Regions from separate parts of the Homo sapiens genome. Here region 2 is linked to region 1. The links come from fine-mapping of genetic effects on gene expression. A gene starts in region 1. The other region holds a variant in brackets. All regions are shown on one strand. Distances are between the middles of the regions.

What was found.
Region 2: its variant is fine-mapped to the expression of ACER2 in nasal epithelium (TOPMed, PIP 0.96).

What each region holds. Positions count from the first base shown.
Region 1 is chr9:19,405,008-19,413,725 of GRCh38, reverse strand. ACER2 (alkaline ceramidase 2) reads right to left here and starts at 4,717. Exons shown (of 6, transcript NM_001010887.3): 1 at 4,534-4,717. The coding sequence starts at 4,641. RefSeq lists enhancers at 4,472-4,621, 4,034-4,889, 4,890-5,747 and a silencer at 4,722-5,011.
Region 2 is chr9:19,443,429-19,451,742 of GRCh38, reverse strand. ACER2 (alkaline ceramidase 2) reads right to left here. Exons shown (of 6, transcript NM_001010887.3): 5 at 5,325-5,462; 6 at 1-1,293. The coding sequence ends at 1,107. Among named protein-coding and RNA genes, the nearest start is that of MAP1LC3BP1, 16 kb to the left of the region's middle. RefSeq lists enhancers at 4,800-5,546, 4,485-5,684. The variant G/A (reference allele first, on the strand shown) is at 3,862.

The DNA of each region.
Region 1 (8,718 bases):
TCCCTGCTGAGCAACAGAGTCCCCAAAGGCCAAGCTCAGGTAAAAGGCAGACCCGGCTTTTCTCCAAAGTGGCTAGGTCTATGTGACTGGGGCCTTAAATATTTTCTTTTTTTTTTTTTTTTCCTTAAGATGGAATCTTGCTCTGTCACCCAGGCTGGAATGCAGTGGCCTCATCTTGGCTCACTGCAACCTCCACCTCCCAGGTTCAAGCAATTCTCCTGCCTCAGCCTCCCTAGTAGCTGGGACTACAGGCACACACCACCACACTTGGCTAGTTTTTTGTATTTTTGGTAAAGATGGGGTTTCGCCGTGTTGGCCAGGCTGGTCTCAAACTCCTGACCTCAAGTGATCCTCCCACTTCAGCCTCCCAAAGTGCTGGGATTACAGGCGTGAGCCACCGCGCCCAGCCAGGGGGTCTTAAATCTTAAAACATAAAAAGGAACTCAATTAATAAAATTTGTATATAGAAGAAACAGTATAAAATGTGCACAAGTAAAAGGCTGTGAAAGGAAATTACATGTTCATGGAAGAGATATTAGGCTTGGCTGAAGCAAAGGATGATACAATTTGAGGCAACAGAAATTTGCAGAGGCCAAAGCAAAATGTTTTGTATGCCCAAACATTGTCAGTGGAAGTCAAATCAGTGCACTCTCTTTAGTGTGCCATTTCACAATAATTATCAGCATTTAAACTGAATATCCTCCTTGACACAGCAATCCCCATCTAAGATTAGTGCTTGCGAAAGTACATCCAGATGCATGAATGAGGATATTCACTGAATCACTGTTCAAAAACCAAAATGAAAACAATAAAACAGAGAGAAACTATATGAAATGTCCATCAATAAGGATTGATTAGATAAATAAATTATGATCAATCCATTAAAGGGAGTACTGTATAAACATTATAAACAGGAAGAGAGCACTATATGAGCTGATATGGAAATATCTCCAAGACATATTAAGTGAAAAACACAAGGTACATAAGAGTTTACACAGTACCATCTTGGAAAAAAACTTCAAGTATTCGTGATTACGCCATACATGCTGGTTTTTTTTTTTTTTTTTTTGAGACAGAATCTTGCTCTGTTGCCCAGGCTAGAGTGTGCAGTGGCGCGATCTCAGCTTACTGCAACCTTCACCTCCCAGGTTCAAGCTATTCTTCTGCCTCAGCCTCCTGAGTAGCGGGGACTTACAGGCACGCACCACCACAACCAGCTAAATTTTTGTATTTTTAGTAGAGATGAGGTTTCACCATGTTGGCCAGGTTGGTCTCAAACTCCTGACCTCAAATGATCTGCCTGCCTCAGCCTCCCAAAGTGCTGAGATTACAGGCATGAGCCACTGCCCCCAGCCTTATACATGCGTATTTTATATGCACACAGATACATGTGCTTTTTATATGCCTAGAAAATATCTAGAAAGATACAGAAGGTTATTTTTCACTCTACAACTTACATACTCTAAATTTTTTACCATGATCATATTACTTTTACAATAAACAGTAATTTTACAAACTACTTTAAATAAACTTTTTTCCTATCAAAAAGTATGAGTTTTATCCTAGAGATAAAATGATCCCAAGACAGGAGTTTTAAGTTATGGAATGACTAAATAATAAATATCTATTCTATGCCAAATAGATAAATCTAAGTTAGTTACAGTGGCACTTATAGCTTCAAGATAACTCTCTTGGTAGAGTCAAATGGACCAAGTTCTGACTTCAGCTGTGCTATGCTCTTGACCACAGCAAGTTACATAAACTCTCTAGGCCCCAATTTCCATCTTTATCAAATGGATATAATAAATAGCACCCATTGTCTAGAATGAGTATACAGTACCCAGCAGAGCTTCAACACATAGCAATTAAGTAATGGTAGACAGTAGTATCTGAAGGTGTAGTAGTGATGTGCTACCCCTAAGACCCATTAAGAAGGTTCTAGATCCCTCTCCCGGTCTTCTCCTGATTTAACATTGTCAATTCCTCCAACTTTTTCTCAAAACTGGTAATGATTATGAGTTTCCTATAAACTGGGTAATTAGACCTGTTGCCTTATTATGAGGATTTAAGACGATATTTATCACCACATAACAGTCTACTGTCTTTCTCAACACAGGAGTAAGATAAGCATGGGAATGTCCTGTGATAAGCATCAAAATATAAGTAGTACGTAAGAACACAGGGGAAGAAGGCCGGGCATGGTGACTCACGCCTGTAATCCCAGCACTTTGGGAGGATCGCTTGAACCTGGAGGTGGAGGTCGCAGTGAGCCAAGATCGCACCACAGCACTCAAGCCTGGAACAGAGCATGATCATCTCAAAAAAAAATTTTTTTAAATAGCAACAGAGGGGAAGAAACGTTTTTTGCTAAATTCTTTGGACCTACACTCAACAAAGTTAGGCAATGACCTTATTCTCTGACACCTTACGCTCTCTGCTTTGCCAGAGCAAATTTTGTGGTTTATGAGTATTCCAAGGAATAAAGTTTGTCAGATGGGCCAGCTGGGCTCATCAGCCAGACAATGCAGCTGAAGATCAACAGTTAGTTTCTGAAAAAGACTTTAGCACTCACTACATAGAGTAACGGCTCCAATGGGACTAGATTAAAAGTAAAGACAAACTCTCCCTTTCATCCAGCCCTATGACACTTTTCAAGACAGACTCAGAGAAGCCATACACTAGCTTTTTTGGCCAAAATAACCAAGGTTGACCCTCTCTGTAGACCCCAGGCTGCACAGAGAATAATCTTGCTAAGTGTGTGAGAACCTGTCATCAAGCTGTCTTTTCTTCTTGAACTCTGGTGAAATCCTTACTCTTTCACTATATTCTTTATTTACAAAAGGACAGCTTGTGTTACCACTGGTGTTTCTCCTTATTGAAAGTACCCAGAACTACTCCAGCCCATCCTCTGTGTGCAACTATTTACCCCTGACAGCATGCTCTGGGAGGTTATGCAATACATAAGTCATGGCCACTTCCACTGTCTTTCACAGTATCTGTGGTCAGCAGAGGGCCAGGTTTTCTTTGAGACCCTGTTGCCCAGGCTGGAGTGGAGTGGCGCGATCTCAGTTCATTGCAGCCTTCAACTCCCAGGCTCAGGTGATCCTCCCACCTCAGCTTCCCAAGTAGCTGGGACGACAAGTGTGTGCCACATGTCCAGCTAATTTTTGTATTTTTTTGTAGAGATGAGGTTTCGCCATGTTGCCCAGGTTGGTCTCGAACTCCTGGATTCAAGCGATCCACCTGCCTTGGCCTCCCAAAGTGCTAGGAATACAGGTGTGAGCCACAACGCCCAGCCTTAGGTTTTCTTAAGGAACCAACCTAATCATAAAAAAAGGAGCAGGAGTGTTTGTGTGGAAGCCAGCCATGGATTTCAGCACTGAGGGAAGGAAGGGCCCAGACTTCTGGATTGTGGCCCCAGCCATGCCAGAAATGTGAGCATGACAGCTCCCTCCTCAAGAGCCCAGTTTTCTCATCAGATGAATAAAAGGACAGGGACTAGATCATCTGAGATTCCTGCAGGCAGTAAGCACCTGACTCCTGCTGAAGACATTCTCTCTAGCAAATCCAAAAGGAAAAGTCCTAAACAACAACCTCAAATTCACAATGACCCAAACCAGGAGTTCCTGTTTCCCTTGTTTGGGCGGTGAAAAGATAAGCCACAGAAATGACCACGCAAAGTCTCACATTCTGTACCAGGATTCTGAGCCATGGACATACACAAAATAAGAGGCATTTCCTCTCCCAGCTGCAACCCTTCCCTACCACAAGAACTAAAATCACACAGGATTCTGCAATGGGGAAGTTTCTGCTCACCCTTATCTAGGGACCTAGGCAAATCCAAAACCCGCACATTATCACTCCCAAACTTTCCTTTCATCCCTCAGACTTCAGAACTGGAGAAAGCACAGTCCTGGGGGAGTTGAATTAGCGGCTTGCACAAGACAGGACACTAAAGGCAAGAAAAAAAAACAAGTAGTAATTAACTTGATTCTGACCAAAAATAACTCGACCATTATAGGCATGTTCTTGGGGGTGGGGCAAGTCTGCCTGGTGGGAGTGACCCCAGCCGCGGGGACCTGCGGGGGGCGTGCTCTTCCCAGCACTCCGAGAGCAGGTATTCAGGGCAAAAAAGCACAATGCGACCCAAGTGCGTCACGCCACAGAGATCCCAGGGGAGGAAGAGACTTGTCCCGGCAGGTTCACCGCCCCCAGCTGACCCAAACAAGGAGAATGGGCTGACACAGACCCCTGGTTCCTGGACGCGTGGGGGCCAAACAAGACAATAGGACCATCACAAAACAAATGACAGCAGGAGGAAGATGAGCCCAGCTGTCGGGAATGGGGACAGGAGAGGAGGACAGATGGAGAACTGAAAGGAGCGCGCCGAGGAGGGGGTGTGGACTGACTCAGCCCCTGGAGAGAATGCCCCCAGATGCGCGCAGAGACCCACGTCCAGCTTCCAGACGCTGCGGCGCGGGAACAGCCCCCTCCCGCTGGCCCGCCTGCCTTCCCCGCTCCCGCGCCCCGCACCGTGTTGTAGAACTCGGCGATAGCAGGCACGATGGTGTAGTTGTCCTCGCACCAGTCCACCTCCGAGCTACCAGCCTGCAGCTGGTCCCACCAGTGCGGGGCGCCCATGGCCACTCCGGGGCATTGGAGCAGCTGCTCGCGCAGCTGAGAAGAGCCCAGAGCTGCTGCGGAGGCAAAACGCGGCGACAGCCAGCGGCGAAAGCGGCTTTATGAAGCACCGGGTAACCGCCGGATGTGCGCCTCCCAACTGGCCTCCCGCGCTCCGCCCCGCCTCGCCTCGCCTGCGGGAGGTTACTCGTTCGCAGACCCTCCCCGGCCCCTCCCCCTGGAAGCCACGCCCACCGTGGGGCGGGACCCGCGTGGAGGAGGGGTCCAGGGTGGGGCGCCTGGAGGCGGAGACCGGGCTCCAGACTCTTCCAGACTACCCAGCACCCGGCAGGTGGCCAGGGCCTCGATGGTGCTACCCACGCCTGCCCACGCCCATCTCCTGGCTCAGACTCGCAGCCTCCCCCGATTGAAGGAGCGCCAGAACTCTCCCTGGAAAAAAATTTAAAATAAAAAGAAACCCGGGAGGACCTGGACCTCTCTGGACCCAGAGTTTGCAGCGATTTTGCTGCGTCCGGCGTTGGACGCCAGTGCTTACACCAGAGAAGTGCCCTCAGTCCCTCCGAGGCCGGACGCCACTCGCTGCGGTCACTGTGGCAGGAAGACCTTCCCGGCTGCTGGAGCAGGTTGGGCCGCCCAGTCCCCGGGGGAGCACTTCTATTTAGAGTACGTTCCTGCCCTCCCTCCCCTTGGCTCCAGCGTTAAGGCTTAATCTAGCCTTCGATATGGGGACTTAGGCAAAGGGTCAAACGTCAGCCATCCCAAACTGCAGAGGATGTAGTGTGGCAGTTATGACATCTCCAAGATATCGAGGTTCAAGAGGTGATAGATAACATACACATGCCAGGTGCTGTCTGAAGAGTTTCCATGTATCACTCATTTAGTGTGCCCAGCAGAGACCCTGTGAGGGGCTTCTATTAGCAAGTGACAGAGCTGGAAATTCAATTCAGGCAAGATGTCCTCAGATCCAGTCATAACTACCTTCTTTTGCTTCTGTAACTGTTCTGCGGTTTGTAAATGAAAGCCAATCTGGTTCCCAGGATCCCTAGAGGAAAGCCACCCTCTGTGTGTATGTGGTGGCTCCCGTTCTCCTTCCTTGAAAGGTTGTAGGATTCTAGGTCAGGACAGCGGCAGAAGAGGCCCTGGGCAGCAGCCCATTGGTGACTGTCATTAGGACGTCTTGCTCGGACCCGCAGGGTATCCTAAAGGCCAGCAACTCCCCAGGGTCTGCCCTCTCTCTGGGCCTGACTGCCCAGCAGGACCCTGGGTGGTGCTTCAGTGTCCTCTGCACCAAGTGTTTGTCTGCCCACCAGTACCCACACAGCCATGTGCAAGTCCCCAGAGATCTCCATCACTGACAAAAACTGCAAGCCCCGCCGCCTCTCCTAGTCTCTAGAAAATCCAGGTTTGTCCCCCAGGGGCCAAACCACACTCCTCCTTTCATCTTTGTCCCAACCTCTATCCCTTCCTCCTGCTTTACGGGCAATTCCACTGCCCTCCAGAACCCAAGTAGAAGATACACTCTTACCTTCCCCTAGGGTTGATTTACCCAGACCTACAGGATACCCGGAGTGAGCTGGCCACCTAAGAAAGGCGGTTGAGGGCCGGGCGCGGTGGCTCATGCCTGTAATCCCAGCACTTTGGGAGGCCGAGGCAGGCGGATCACGAGGTCAGGAGATGGAGACCATCCTGGCTAACATGGTGAAACCCCGTCTCTACTTAAAAAAAGAATACAAAAAATTACCCGGGCGTCGTGGCGGGCGCCTGTAGTCCCAGCTACGCAGGAGGCTGAGGCAGGAGAATTGCGTGAACCCGGGAAGCGGAGCTTGCAGTGAGCCGAGATCGCGCCACTGCACTCCAGCCTGGGTGACAGAGCGAGATTCCATCTCAAAAACGAAGGGCGGTTGGGGTGGATGTTTCCCACAGCCACAGAAGAAAGATACATCAGTTAATTTCTGTGTCTCAAAATGCTACACCAACTGTTCAGCAATAGAATTTTCCCTGTAGTCAATATTTTACTTCTTCCAACAACAGTTTACTTGGAAATATATCCATATTCATCAAAATATAATGGTATTTTTAAAAAACCATTATTTTATATGCCAGAGATTCTCAAAGTGTGGTTCCTCCCTTTCTTTTCATTTTCATTCTCTTACCAGTGTACATTGGAACTTCCCAGAGGATACATGATGTGTGATGTCATTATCTCTCCGACAGCTAATGGAATATGTGCTTGTGATTCTTTGGTATTAAAAGTCTGTTTAAATTTCTAATGCGGTAACTATTGATGTTACCATATAAACCACAAGTTCTCTGGTGTTCTCAATATTTTTTAAGAGTGTAAAGGGGTCCTCAGACTAAAAAGATTGAAAGTTGCTGTTAAAAAGATGTTCCTGGCCGGATGCAGTGGCTCATGCCTGTAATCCCAGCACTTTGGGAGGCCAAAGCAGGCAGCTCTTCTGAGGTCTGGAGTTCGGGACCAGCCTGGTGAACTTGGCAAAACCCCGTCTCTATTAAAATACAAAAATTAGCAGGGCATGATGGTGGGCACCTCCAGCTATGCGGGAGGCTGAGGCAGAAGAATCGCTTGAACCCAGGGGGCAGAGGTTGCAGTGAGCCAAGATCGCGCCGCTGCACTCCAGCTTGGGCAACAGAGCGAGACTCCATCTCAAAAAAAAAAAAAAAAAAAAGAAATATTTCCAATTAAACTATTTGTAATACTTTTTTATCATTTAGAATTTTTAGTGAACAAGCACAGACTTAGACTTACATTGTTATCATACATCTCTTGTGCATACCTAAGAAGGAAGGTATAAGCAAAAATAAATTCATTAAAGAATTCCTGTAATTTCTTTACATTCAGAATCTCTGTTCTTCTGAGTCATTTTTCAGCTTATAGTCATTGATGTCTGTGTCATTCATATAGAAATGTCCTCTGTGTCCTTAATTACTATGTGCTAATAATGCAGCATTTCTTAAAACTATTCCACTACTGTTTTCTTGCAAACTACTGACACCTGTTTTACAAATTTTGATGCTGGGACTCTCCTGATCTTACCTGAAGGTGTCAGTGGAAGGTTTCCAGACAACAGGCAGCATGTTTCTTTTCCAGATGGTCCTTATATAATCTGTTGAGAGAAACATGGAGATTACAGTTGCCAAGTCATCCCACCAGGAATAACCACCAAGTCTGTACATATGCAGGCAGTGACACCACATCACAACCATGACCTAGCCAACCATAATCATAAAATGCCATTCTTGGTAAAATGCATCAGGATTTCAGAGATTTAACAACGCAAAACAATGTGAGTTTTAGCACCAGTGAAATATTAAATTTGCTGAATGTAATTCATCCTTCTTTCCAAGTCTTGCTAAGGGAATGATGGGAGTTTTTCATCCTCCACAGTAACTCTTATTGTCAGTGACAATTGTAGTTCAAAATCAGTCAGCCACATTGGTTCCTTCTAATTACAACTGCACAGAAACCGTACTTGAGTCACACTGTCTCTAAAATTTTGTTTTCATAGCTCTCCCCATTGTTAACATTGTTAACTTTTTTTTTTTTTTTTGAGACAGGGTAACCCTCTGTTACCCTGGTTGGTGTGCAATGGTGCAATTTCAGCTCACTGCAACCTTGACCCCCCCACCCCAGACTCAAGCGACCCTCCCACCTCAGCCTCATGAGTAGCTAGGACCACAAGGGTGCACCACAATGCCCAGCTAAATGTTGTATGTTTTGTAGAGACAAGGTTTCATCATGTTGCCCAGGCTGGTCTCAAACTCCCAGGTTCAAGTGATCCCTTGAGCCTCCCAAAGTGCTAGGATTATAGGAGTGAGCCATTGCATCCAGCCAACATTTTTAAAATAAATACAACATTGGTAATTTAACAAGAGGGCCTATCAGGAGGTTATAAATTTTAAAATTGATTTATATTAATTGCATGATGCCTTAGAAACTACTGCTAGTGGTTGAATACAAAATTCTGATGTCTACTCTAAACTAAGTTTGTTGAGGGAAGGATGCAGTGACAGCAAGGAACAGAACTACTGAGTTCCAACTATTTGGCTTACGATGCT
Region 2 (8,314 bases), 38 kb before region 1:
ACCACAATTGTGAGGAGCCCTTTGGTAAACTTACAGAGGTCAAGTCTTAAAGATGGTGGGTCTGTGGGAATGTTCATGCCATAATTCTTCTTCTCTGTAGATTTGAGGCTGCTGAGCTGGGGTGGGAGGGGGAAGAGGAAGTGATGTCAGTATTTAAAAATTGTGCTCAGTATTTAAAAATTGTGCTCATCTTCAAGAAGGGCCTAAAGTGGAGTGTAGGTTTTGGCAGAGAGGGTTTTACTCATTAGCTTCACGTTTATCTGAAGTCTCTCCATCTCTCCACAGAGGTAGTAGTAAAAGGATTCACAGATGCATGTAAAACCTGGGTTAGTTGAGAAATGCAAGTGAAAAACTAGCCTTTTTAGCCACAAGTCCTGTGTGTGTTTCATCTGTTTGGTTTTGTTTAAGGACAATTACCCCAAAGGAAAATCTCTGGCATCTTCCATCACAGAGTCAGAGGGTCTTGTCTCTCAGAGGGTCTGTCTGTCATCAGTAGAGTCCACTCCAAGGGCGCCTGGGAATGGTGGGGTCTGGAGCAGGCCAGCTTTCTCCAGGAAGAGATGCATTGTACAGGGCTGGATCCCCCAAGGGACTGCTCTGCCATGGCCATTAAGGACGCAGCCCAACAAGTCACTGCATCTGGAAGTGATGCTGAGAAAGATGCATCTAGTGTCCCTAAGCCCTCCATTTTCCATCTTTGGGAAAGGAATAGACACTTTTCCCCTTGTACAGTGGAATCCAGGTGGTCCACAGACACATTAGGGAGGAGGAGGGGACCTTTTTAAAAATTACACAAAATCCAGAAATCCTAAAGAAAAGATTAACAGATGTGACAACATGAAAGTTTAAAACCAGTATGGCACAAAAATATTAACATACTGAAAGACAAATGGGAAACTGCAGGGGGGCAGGGAATATTTGTACCATATGACAAAGTTTAAATCCCTACATACAAAGAACACTAAAGAAATTAAGAGCCCCAGCAAATAGATTTTTGAAAAGATAGCCCACACCCCAACTATTCGAACTCCCTTGGCTGTCTTCCTAGCAAAGGAAGCCCACTGCATGAGGGGCGATAAGCAGAGAAGCCAGCCACCATCTTGCCATCACGTGATCTTGACTGATGATTTCTTGTTGGCACACAGGAGGGACACATAGGGGACACCAATGAAGGCCCATTTCTCATTGGGCCAGAACTTGATGACAGGGCCTTGCTCAGGAATCTCTGAGGCAGCATCAAAGTAGGCAAAGCATACACAGCCCAGGTAGGCAGCAAGGCAGATGAGGATGTGCCTGCAGAGGGAGACAAGAGGTGAGAACCTGATGAGCATGAAGACTCCGCTGCCCTGAGTTTAGCCTGCTCCTTCTTCCGGTCTAACCCACGCACCTTGCTGACTGTAGTTGCAGCCCAGGGGCCTCTTCTAATTAGGAAAGGATGAAGATTACCAACAATCCCTGGAATAGCAGGATGATAAATCTTCAGCAATTTGGGACCCGTTTTAGAATGTTCTTAAATAGTCCTGCTGGATAATAGGAACAAATGTGCAAATAAATGCCTTTGGGCCTCAAACAAGAAGACTGAGGCCCAAGGATTTACAACAGAGATGCTAAGATGGAAGTAACTGAGCACATCTGATTAGAACCCACCTTCTCACTTTAACAACTGGTTACAGATATTTTATGTCCTTCATCAGGAATAATTTTATGTTGGTTAAACCACTTTTGCAGTTTAGTGGAAATTTTAAAAAATTTATCCTCACTGTACCTGTACAAAGTTTTAAATTTATATTAAACTTTATCGAACAATAGACCATTTAAAAGCATGTAATCCTTTTTTTTTTTTTTTTTTTTTAAATGAAGTCTCACCCTGTCATCCAGGCTGGAGTGCAATGGTGCAATCTCGGCTCACTGCAACCTCTGCCTCCTGGGTTCAAGCAATTCTCCTGCCTCAGCCTCCCAAGTAGCTGGGATTACAGGCACCCACCACCAGGCCCACCTAGCTAATTTTTGTATTTTTAGTAGAGAGGGAGGGGGTTTCACCATGTTGGCCAGGCTGGTCTTGAACTCCTGACCTCAGGTAATCCACCTGCCTCGGCCTCCCAAAGTGCTGGGATTACAGTCGTAAGCCACTGCGCCCAGCCCAAAGACAATATTTTTATAAACTTTGATGTTGGGGAGGAGGGGATCTTTTTAAAAATTACACAAAATCCAGAAATCCTATAGAAAAGATTAACAGATGTGACAATATGAAAGTTTAAAACCAGTATGGCACAAAAATATTAATATACTGAAAGACAAATGAGAAACTGCAGGGGGGCAGGGAATATTTGTACCATATGACAAAGTTTAAATCCCTACATACAAAGAACACTAAAGAAATTAATCAGGGTCAGGGTGGGAAGTAGGTGAGAATGGTATGAACCAGATTGGCCTCGTGTTGATAGTTATGGAATCTGGGTGTTGCCTATATGGGGGTTCAATGTATTATTCTCTGTACTTGTGAAAATGTTGCAAATATGCATAAGTGGCACATAGTTACGTAGCTAGTAATGACTGTCTACTATGTGCCAAGCCTAGATGCTGAATATAAACTGTTTTATTTTTTATTTTTTGGAGACGGGGTCTCACTCTGTTGCTCAGGCTAGAGTACAGTGGCACAATCTCAGCTCACTTCAATCTCCGCCTCCCAGGTTCAAACGATTCTCCTGCCTCAACCTCCCAAATAGCTGGGACTACATGCACATCCGGCTAATTTTTTGCATTTTTAGTAGAGACGGGGTTTCACCGTGTTAGCCAGGATGGTCTCGATCTCCTGACCTGGTGATCCACCTGCCTCGGCCTCCCAAAGTGCTGAGATTACGGGCGTGAGCCACCACGCCCGGCTGATATGAACTTTTAAAAATAGAAACACTCAATAGACCAGACAAAGAAAATTAAAAGGGGAAATACACATCACAAATTGACATTTGAAAAGATGCCCAACAAAAATACTAATTTTTTAAAAAGACATAATAATAAAAACAAAATATAATTTTTCTCAAACAGGTTAATGGAGATTTAAGAGTTTCCAGTATATGTGAAAGTGTGGGTAAAAAATGCTCTCTTACAGACTTCAGTAAACAGTGTTAATGGTACAGTTTCTCTGGATTTAGCAATATATAATATTAATTTAACATATGAAAATATTCAGAAACTCAAATCAATCTAGATGTTCATTATAAAGTGTTTGCAAAAGTGGAAAATTAGAAATAACCTCAAAGTCCGTTATCAGAGAGAGGTTGGTTAAATAAATTATAAAGTGTCCATATTATGAAGCATTTATTAGACACAAAAATGAAGATTATATATATGTATTGGTATGGAATGATGTCTGTATAGCATTAGATCTATGTAGTATAGATTTAAGTATTTGGTTAAAAAAAAAGTTTGGGCCAGGCTCAATGGCTCATGCCTGTAATCCCAGCACTTTGGGAGCCCAAGGCAGGTGGACCTGCTCGAGCCCAGGAGTTTCTGACTAGCCTGGGCAACATGGCAAAAATCCATCTCTACAAAAAAATTCAAAATAAATTAGCCTGGCACAGTGGCATGCACCTGTAGTCCCAGCTCCCTGCAGGGGGTGAGGTGGGAGAATCACTTTCAGTCCGGGAGGCAGAGATTGCAGTGAGCCAAGATCACCCCACTGCACTCCAGCCTGGGCAACAGAGTGAGACTTTGTCTCAAAAAAAAAAAAAAAAAAAAGTTTGCATCGTGTATAGAATGATGCTATTTTTTTTAAAAGTAGACATATATATGTGTGCGTGTGTGTGTACATATAAAATCTCAATGGATATACATCAGACTGTTAATAATTATGTTTCTTTG[G/A]GGGATAGAATTATGAGAGCCATTCTTTCTATACTTCTATGTTGTTTAAATTTGTTATAAAAAATATGTCATTTTATAACTGGAAAGAAAATATGGTTCAACTTTGAAAAACAAAGCAGAAATATACCAAATTCAGAAACACATTAAGTTTGAGTCAAAATTATTACATAGTTTAAATTTCGAATTTGACTTAAATCATGTGTGACAGGGGACTTAGATAAAAATGACCATCTTGAATGAGGTCATATTTACCTAGTGTATACATTTCTCAAAATTCACAATATACACTTAAAATCTGTACATTTTGTTATCTGGAAATTATAACCCAACAAATATATAAACTATATAAATTCACTAGTATTAGTTGAGTTGAATCTAAAAAATATCGAGCAATGGATCCTAAGACGGTAAACTCCAACTTGTGCTGTTTGAATTTTGTCTTTTACAAACACTCCTTGAAGTCCCCAAGTCTTAAATTTAGAGTAGGGTGGGTCTCATAGCAAATATATCAAAGTTCACATGAGCAAGGGAACTTAAGTGAATTCTATCAAATTGTATATTTTTAGCCTATCTCTGGATAGAAGTCAACCTTTTCCTGAATCTAGATCTAACAAAGTTTTTCCATTTCTTCACCACTAGAATTCCTCTCTGGGTTCCTCCTACCTATAGGGGATAACCTACAGCAGATTTCTCCTCCTTGTGATCTTTTGCAATCAGAAGTCCTGGAGGACAGAAAGGAAAGATCACTCTGGGTTTGAGGCTGAAGCAGTTCCTAGGAAGAAAGCCACTCCAATTTCCCCCAGCTTTCTCAGAATCGGATTCTGCATGTATTTTGTAACCCGCTTTTTTTTTTTTAACTTAGTGTATCCTGAGCATTCCAAAGTATAGACGCTCCAATGTGCTATTACTGAACTCCAAGGTTGTTTTCTACAGAAACAGGTGGGTGACATTAAACAATTCACTTTAGCTCTCTGGTCTTCTGTCCCCACTTATAGAAATAATGGAAGAGAATGTCTCTAAATGGCCAGTGCGGCCCCTCCTTGCACTTGGTCTCTCAGGCCCTAAAGGTGGGGTTCCCACTGAGGACCCTCCCAGCCCTCACATCACCTCTTTCCCCAGCTTTCCCCTACCTCTCCCCTCCCCCAACACCTAGCTAGAGCTCAGGTTACAGGTTCAGTTCTCAAGCTCCTTTAGGCTTTAATAATGGAGTTAGAGGTAAAAGACTGCAGACCTAAGCATGACAATCAGGCCTTTCGTTCCGGCTAAGCCTGCTCCCTGGAGTCAATTCAGCTTTTTACAAAGTGTGCTTTCAGTGGCTTCTGAACCATCTGACCGTCCACCTGAGGAGAGAAGCAAGCCAGCAACCCACAGGACACCTGTGCACCACTTGCAGGGTGAACAGAGCCCAACAGCAAGTGCAAACACACCTGTCCCCGGCCACCTCCCCATTAGCAGGGGCTTACCACATGCAGTGCAGGTAGGGGAAGTTGAAGGATGACAGCAGCTCGCAGAAAGCTCGGTCACTGATCCAGCAGAACAGGGCCAGGGTCCACCAGAGGCCCGAGAAGAGGCCCAGCTTAAACACACGCATGTTGTCACACCTGCACGGGGGTCCAGAGAGTCACTCATCGTCAGACCTTGTCTCCACCTCCTTGCTGGCCACCTTTCCTGTGTCTCCTTCGCTGGTTCCTCTCATGCCTACAACCCCAAGACACTGAAGTTCTTACCCAACACACAGTCACTCCACAGTCTCATGGATGTAAATACCATATGTACACAGATGGCTCACAGACACCCTTCCCACCCAGGCTTCTCTCCTGACTCCAGACTCATACACCCAACTACATTTTTGACACGAGCACCCTAATATGGATCTAAATTTAACAAGTCCATAACCTATTCTTCTCCCAATCTTTCTCCTTCTCACATAGCCCACATCTAGTCCATCAGCTCTCCCTTCAAAATATCTCAAACCTGACCTCTTTCCACCACCTCCATCTAGATCCATGCTACCGCCATCTCATCAGAGTCTCCTTCCACCCTTGCCCCTACAGCCAATTTAACAGCCTCCAGCATCTTCCTGTTTAACCAGAGGGAAAGCCAAAGTATTCACAGTGGCCACAAGGCCCCGGATGCATGATCTTCCCTTTTCCCCTTCACCTCCTCTCGTGTGTACTCTTCCCTCTCACTGCCCATACTCAAGCCACTGCAGGATTTGTGCTGTTCCACAAATATCCCAAGCATGCTCCTGCAAGACCATAGCACTCACTGTGCCCTCTTGCCTGGAATGCTCTTCCCTCACATGTAAATCTTTGCTCAAATGTCACTCAGTAAGCCTTTTCCTGATGCTATTTTTAACAATTTCAACACCTGTCTCCACCTCCCAGGTGACTCTCCCTAAGGCCTCCTTCCCTCCTTTAATTTTCTAGGTAGTGATTATAACCTCCCTGACACCCTCTGTGTTTCACTTATGTGTTTCCAGTGTGTGTTTATCCACTGACATGGAATCTGTTTACTGCTGTATCCCAGCACCTGGAAATGTGCCAGACACAGAAGGCACTCAACATGTGTTGAATGAAGGAATAACTTCTTACACACACTGGGACAAAATGGTTTTCTGAAAAAAATGCTAACAGCTCAATGAAAATTTCAATTGCCGTCTTCTTTCCTTGACAAAGACTTGCTCATAAAGTGGGTGAGTTCTACCCCTGGGGACGAACACCTGGGGGCAGCTGGTGGCTGAGCGTCCTTCTTCCCGGAGGGGACCACTCCTGGGTCAGTCAAGATCTCCTATGGGACCCAGAATACAACACGACATCTGCAATTGAGAAGAAGCTTAATTCCTCTTTGTTGAACCCACAGACAGGTGTTAAAAGCCTGACTGGCTAGTGCCCTTCCCAGATGCCTTTCACAAACATCAGCGAAAGCATCAATAAAAGTGGGACAGGTTCAGAAAGACCTGTTCAAAAACAAATCAAAATACTCTTGTAGGAAGGCTAAATACATCCCTTGAAAAGTTTTTAGAAAGAATAGAGGCCGATGACATGGGGAGACTTACATTCCCAGTTACTAAAACAAAGAGATAACAATTTCCATTTCTCGCTTTCGATTACCACTCTCTACCTTGAATGCCTCGCCTTTGGGCTGGTTCCCTCTCAAAAAGAGCTCATCTCTCACCTTGACCCACCCTCTCCTTCTCTCCAGGGCTCAGTCTCCAGGCTTCTTCCCACACACAATGCCAGATACTATAGGTCTCCCCTCAGTGCAAGCTCGTCCACAACCGTGGCCCACAGGCTGCATGCCGACCAGGATGGTTTCGAATGAGGCCCAACACAAATTTGTAAACTTTCTTAAAACATTATGAGATTTTATGCCGGGCGCGGTGGCTCAAGCCTGTAATTCCAGCACTTTGGGAGGCCGAGGCGGGCGGACCAGAGGTCAGGAGATCGAGACCATCCTGGCTAATCCGGTGAAACCTCGTCTCTACTAAAAATACAAAAAAATTAGTCGGGCGTGGTGGCGGGCGCCTGTAGTCCCAGCTACTCGGGAGGCTGAGGCAGGAGAATGGCGTGAACCCGGGAGGCGGAGCTTGCAGTGAGCCGAGATCGCGCCACTGCACTCCAGCCCAGGGGACAGAGCAAGACTCCGTCTCAAAAAAAAAAAACCATTATGAGATTTTTTTTTTTTGCGACTTTCTTTTTTTTTTTCTTTTCTTTTTTTTTTTTTTAGCTCATCAGCTATCATTAGTGTATTTTTTGTGTGGCCTAAGACAATTTTTCTTCCAATATGGCCCAGGGAAACCAAAAGAGCGGACACCCCTGCCTTAGCGCATTCTCTCAGGGCACCCTGCCATGTTCCTTCATAACTCTCATCACAAGTTGAAACTATGAATTTATTATCTGTGTAACATCTGGTATTAAACTAGCCTAGAGGCCGGGAGCTCACCCCTGTAATCCCAGCACTTTGGGAGGCCAAGGTGGGAGGATCACTTGAGATCAGGAGTTGGAGATCAGCCTGGCCAATGTGGTGATATCCCGTCTCTACCAAAAATACAAAAATTAGCCGGGGGTGGTGGCACATGCCTGTAATCCCAGCTACTTGGGAGGCTGAGGCAGGAGAATCACTTGAACCCAGATTGTGGAGGTTGCAGAGAGCTGAGATCGCACCACTGCTCCAGCCTGAGCTTCAAGAGCAAGACTCCATCTCAATAAACAAACAAACAAACAAACAAACTAGCCTAGAATCCCAGAGGAACTACCCCTGTTTTATTCACTAATGTATACTCCATGCCTGGCAACTGTGCCAGGCACTGTTAAATGCTTCCTGAATTAATGGATAAAATTATGCATAAATGGACCCTAATTTGGTAATTTGTAATTTGGGCAGAACATTATTTTTAGATTATTTAAGATTATTGGCCAGGCACGGTGGCTCATGCCTGTAATCCCAACAC